Linked DNA regions of Homo sapiens: region 2 is linked to region 1. A link means that fine-mapping ties the variant in region 1 to the expression of a gene that starts in the linked region. Tissue or cell type: whole blood. Region 1 holds a variant in brackets; the other region holds the start of a gene. Each region is shown on its reference strand, or each on the opposite one.

Region 1 (2,907 bases):
ACAAGTCAGCTTTCATCCCTTGAGGTTGTTTCCAATGTTAGAGGATATTGTGGGGATATTTTACTACCAGTTTATTGGTATTAGTCTCCAATAACAATAACCACAACTGGGCAAATCTCTTTTTTCATTTCACTGATTAATATTAGAGACAAAGTTTAAATGCCCGAGAGAAGAACCATCTGTGAAAATGAATTGGGAGGGCTGTGATGCAAACTCCCTTATCGAGGTTGCACTGTGTGCTTGGCATCGATTTCATTATCTCCCATTTCCTACTTATAATGTAATGGTCAGCCTTTTCCTGTTACCCAAGGGTAGCAATTTCCACTTTAGAGAACATATTTCTTACATATCCTTTGGTAATCATGGACAACTTAATGATTTCCCCTTGCTCTCTACACAAGAGCCTCCTGCTGTCTTTCAAGTAAAAAGCCAGGCTCTCCTTTGCAGGCAGGAAGCCTGTGGCCAAAGCCCTGCTCAGCAATCTGGGATTGCACATCTCACATGGCAACGGAAACTGAAGTGGTCTTTAAATGCCAAAGAGGAACCACTTCTCAGGTTGAAATCAGGCTACCAGGCCTTTGGGAAAATGCAGGCCAGTAACCAATTTCTGAGGGACAGATCACCACAAGAGAGAAACGTGCTCCCCAAACAAATATAAACCTCATTTTATTTAGAAGTAAGGCTTCTTCATCCTCTCCAGCTAGCAGCCGTGCTGAGGTGGGGGAAAGGTACTGACTTACCTGCTCTCCCTGGCTGATGACATAAAGGTGAGCACCTGCCAGGTGCAGTGGCTAGCGCCTGTAATCCCAGCACTTTGAGAGGCCGAGGCAGGTGGATCACCTGAGGTCAGGAGTTCGAGAGCAGCCTGACCAACATGGAGAAACCCCATCTCTACTAAAAATACCAAATTAGCAGGGCGTGGTGGTGCATGCCTGTAATTCCAGCTATTCAGGAGGTTGAGACAGGATAATCGCTTGAACCCAGGAGGTAGAGGTTGAGGTGAGCTGAGATCGTGCCATTGCACTCCAGCCTGGGCAACAAGAGCGAAACTTCGTCTCAAAAAAAAAAAAAATGAGCACCTTTCCACAGTGCCAGTAGAAGATGAGAGTCTAAGCCAGATATGCCCATAACTCCAAAGCTCAGGAAGATCCCAGGGGTTGGGAGCTGCAGTCCAGAGGAAGGGTGACTCCTGGTGGAAACAGGGGCTGCAACCACACCACAGGGCTACTTGGCCCCAGAGCAGACTGCATGCCTTAG[A/T]AAAGGCCCTGGGAACAGCTGTATCTTGTCCTTCCAGGATCCTCCAGATAGAGAAGCCAGACGTTGGGTGGAGGAGGGACTCAGATGGGGCTTGAAGGGAAGGGCCTTGTGAGGGCTGTAGGTGGCACACACTGGCAGAGGCACTGAACATACGTGACCTCCATCCTCACAAGAACCTGGCAACCAAGTGGCAACCCCATGCTCAGAAACAAAACTGAGGCTCAGAGAAGTTGAAGAATTTGTCTAAGGTCATGAAGCTGATAATGGAGGAAAATGGGATTCCAACTCAGGAGAGTTAAGCTCCAAGCCCTTGATTTTACCACTTGGGCCTTGTTACTCAAGGTCCAGGAACAAGTGGCACCTGTGCCACCTGGAAACTTGGTAGAAATCAGATCCTCGTGCCCCACTTCAGATGTACAGAATCAGAATGTGCATTTTCTCAAGAGTCCCAGGTTTAAGCATGTGTTCTGCCTTCCTGGGGAGGGTCCTTGAGCACTTTGGGGTCACAATTCAGCACCAAGTGGTGGTACATTCCCAGGTCAGGAAGAGGCTGTGTGTCTCTGGAGTAGAAACCCTAAGAGGCATAATAAGCAATAGTGCTTAGGAATAAGTGCTCAATTGTGATAATCAAACAGATAAGGAAAATAATGAGAAGGTGAGATTTCATGAAAGACAAAAAGACTAGTAGATGTTACACCTCTGGTTGTTTCTGAGTTTGTGAGCTCTTCGTCCATCTCTCCATCCACTCATTCATCAGAATGACTAAGGATCTAAAATGTTGGAAGGACACAGGCTGTCTCATTTTGCCTGTTTGGCCCACAGAGAGAAGTTAAAAGAGTTTGTTCTTACACCTAAGATGAGCTTCTAAGTTCAGTTACCAGAATTTTCAAGCAATGCAGAAAGTGGCATTCTGTGGTGGTCTTTAGAAAAGCAGTATCTCCTAAATCAAAGCAAGAGAGAATAAGACCACACATAAATCAAATGAAGAAAGAGTAGTGCCATCAATGATAGAGACAGACCTGAGGAGAGGGTGGTGGTAGAAAGAATCTGAATTAGAAAAGGGAGGAGAAGAAAGCCATGAGTGATGCTTGTCAAATTTGGGACTGGGCCCACACTGGCATTAAAGAGACCTGAATAGTACCTAGAAGTGTTCTGGGAGTTTTCACCATCCTGTGCTCCAATCATATCCTAATAGTTACTGATTTGGAAGTGGTACCCTGGGTCACATATGTCAATATCAATAGAAAGAAATGATTCTTATGGTAAATTCACAAAAGGATTATTTTTGGATTATAATTTGGCATCATGTGAGTTTGACTACCATGGGCTTGTTTCTGAGAATGTGATCACTTCAAGATGCCCTTACAAAATTGATCCTCTCTATTCTGAAAAATTGTAAGCCCTTGACCTGGCTTACTCACCTAACTACCGAGTGGCCCAATCAGCAGGTCTCCTTTCCTGGCATGGCACTGTAACCTCCTCACCCTGGATCTCTCCCACTACTTTCTTACAATTCAGTTAAGGGATCACCCATACCCACATGCTCACTGCCTCTCCCACAGTTAGTTCCTGAATCTGTTTTGACTGAGGTTGCAATTACTTAAACTTTTGCAACCATCCCCTTCTCTCTATTCAACAGGCAGAACCTAA
Region 2 (2,907 bases), not on the chromosome of region 1:
CATGTTCCCCTGGCTTTCCTGTGTCCTGAATGGAGGATGCCAAGAAGGGCCTTTTGTTAATTTCTGCTTGAGTCAATCCACTTTCTGCTTGTTCTACTGCCATGGATTGTACCCTTAGCTCTAGCCAGCTGGCTGGAGATTCCTTGTTACTGGACACAGGAAAAGCCAGACAGAGGGTCAGTTTAAATCTGTCAGAGCGCCTAGAAAACAACTCGACTGCGCATGCCCGGCTCTCCGTGGGGCAGGAGAGGCACCAAAGGCCACCCCAGGGAAATTCTGACAGCAGCAGGGATCAAAACCATCATGGTGGGGATAAAACCACCTGCTGCTTGCACACACCATTCCGTTAGCATATGCACCTGCAGTAATTTAATGCCCCACAGGCCCTCACCCGACAGCTGGCAGCCGCCTGCCTCCAGCTTCAAGTCACACCCGACGCCCTCTCGGTAGAGGAGCTCGATTCCGCGCAGGTTCTCCCTCAGCTCCTCTGCCTGGCTGGGCTTCTTTACATCTTCCCTGGCATTTCCAGCCCTCTCGCATGTCTGCTGGGCAGCAGCCTTCACCCGGGGCGCTCCCAGCGCCTCTGCTGCGGCCAGCACATCCCCCTGCGAGGCGGGGCCCAGCACCCCCTCATAGGCAAAGGTCAGCACGGCCTCCCAGCCCCCTGGGGACACCTCGAGGCTGAAGGGGGGCCGCGGACCTCCGCCGCCCAGCAGCCTGTCTCGGAAGAGGCTGCTGATTGCGGCCAGGATCACCCGATGCACCCCGTATACCCGCCCCGCGACTGACACCTCTTCGTCCAGCAACAGTCTCTGCTCCCGCAGCCGCTGGGCCTCGGCGAAAAACTGGCTCGGATGCTCCTCGCTGCGCAGCCACTCGGGCTCTGCCGCATCTTCATCTTCTTCCTCTTCCTCTTCTTCCTCTAGGGACAAGGCTGGAAAGGGAAGGTTCCTTGGGACCAGGGGCCTGGAACCAGGCTCCTCCAGAGGAAAGGAAGGCAATCTGGGATCCTCGTCGGGGGAGGGAGGCCAGGAAGGGGTTCTCTGGGCGTGCACAAGGAGTCCAAGGCAGTCCCTCTGGACGGGATGAGAGACACTCTCCAGCTCAGGGGGATAATGTGGGGTGTCCGAGACGCTCATGCCGAGGTTTGCTGGATAGCTGCAGGTGAGCAGAGGCAAGACAGCCTGGCGTCAGAGCTGGGCCCAAAGAGGCCAGAGCAACCATGTCTCCAGCCAGTTGAAATGTCAGTCTCTCCCCTGCTCCAACACCCTCCTCCTACCCTCAGCCACATCCCAGCACTGGAGTATCTGGGATATACAGGACAGCTATAGGGTGCACGCGGTGCAGTGAAACATGCAAGAAGCCCTGTAAAGATCCGGTAACCGGGACCACACCCCTCCCCTATTGCCCCCATCCTTTTAGTCACCCTCAGGAGACACCAGCGTTCCGCTTGCCCTCTCACTTAAGCGCCCGCTGTGCTTGGGGCTGCGTGGCAGAGGGAACTTGCCCACATGGCATCCCAGTCAGCCAGTGGCCCCATGGGGCTAATTATAGCCAGTCCTGGCTGGCTAGGCACTTGGCACCTGGTGTCCTAACTCTGACACCCAATCCCCTGGGCTCCCTCCCAGACTGACATCCCCACCCTTCCACCTGTAGGTCATACAGGAGTGTGCTGAGCTAGGCAAATTAGGAAACCAAGGAGAATGAGGGGATCTGGTGGAATGAGCCCAAGGCCAGAAGGGCTGGGCCACTAGAGTGGGCTGGAAGGATCAGGCAAAGAGTCTGGACCAGGCTTTGGCTGTTGACTTTTCTGTGCATGATAAAGCTGGGACCCCGCCGGGCATGGTGGTTCTTGCCTGTAATCCTAGCACTTTGGGAGGCCAAGGTGGGTGAGTCACTGGAGCCCAGGAATTTGAGACCAGCCTGGGTAATATGATGAAACTCCATATTTTTTATATCTACCAAAAATTACAAAAATTAGCTGGACGTGGTGTCTCATGCCTGTAGTCATAGCACTGTGGGAGGCCAAGGCGGATGGATCACTTGAGGCCAGCAGTTTGAGACCAAACTGGGCAACATGGTGAAACCCCATCTCTACAAAAAAATACAAAAATGAGCCAGGCATGGTGGGGCACATCTTTAGTCCCAGCTTCTTAGGAGGCTGAGGTGGGAGGATCACTTGAGCCCAGGAGGCAGAGGTTGCAGTGAGCTGAGGTCGCACCACACACTCCAGCTTGGGTGACAGAGCAAAACCCTGTCTCAAAAAACAAAAAAGCTGGGACCCAGGAGCGAATATAGCCCAGCTTTATTCATGGAGGGCAGAAGAGTGGGGAAAGTGAAGGGCCAGGGGGCAGGGCTACGGACCTAGGTGGCTCACCCCACACAGGGATTACTATCTGTCCAGAGGTGGGGTCCAGGGTAAGAGCCTGAAATCCAACCCTGTGTCTTTGGAAAAGTGTGGGGAATTCTAACTCTCATCTTGGCACTGGGATAAGAACCAGACAGTGGAAGGTGTGCTTGATCTGCATGCTGTGAGGACCAGAGTCCTGGACTAGATGGGCTATGGACATGCAAGTATTCCATTTGAGCCAGACGGTAACAGCCACTCCTTCTCCCTCCAGGACAACACTTCCTTTCTCATCCTGAGGCCAAGTGCTAGACTAAAGCCCCTAAAAGCCAGGCAATCACTTTGTGCCGCAGTTTTGAGTGTCATCTTGCAGAAAGGATTTAGGGAAAGGTGCAGTGACACACTTCCTCTCCCTTCTCTGGGGGAGGTAGGACAGGCCAAGGACTCCTACTTCCTGGCCTATAAAATGTCTGGTCCAGGCTGGATAGGTTGACTCCACAGGCAGACTTAATAAGGGAAGGAGGAACGATTGCTCCTTGTGATTCAGATGAAAGGGCTCA

What was found. PIP is the estimated chance that this variant, and not a neighbour inherited with it, causes the effect. A credible set is the group of variants that fine-mapping cannot tell apart.
Region 2: KLHL33 starts here. The variant in region 1 is the best candidate, but not a certain one, in a credible set for the expression of KLHL33 in whole blood (TOPMed, PIP 0.81).

Annotation. Positions count from the first base shown.
Region 1 is chr7:50,217,626-50,220,532 of GRCh38, forward strand. No RefSeq gene overlaps it. Among named protein-coding and RNA genes, the nearest start is that of IKZF1, 86 kb to the right of the region's middle. The variant A/T (reference allele first, on the strand shown) is at 1,258.
Region 2 is chr14:20,434,673-20,437,579 of GRCh38, forward strand. KLHL33 (kelch like family member 33) reads right to left here and starts at 1,494. Exons shown (of 5, transcript NM_001365790.2): 1 at 1,427-1,494; 2 at 392-1,158. The coding sequence starts at 1,139. RefSeq lists an enhancer at 1,041-1,950.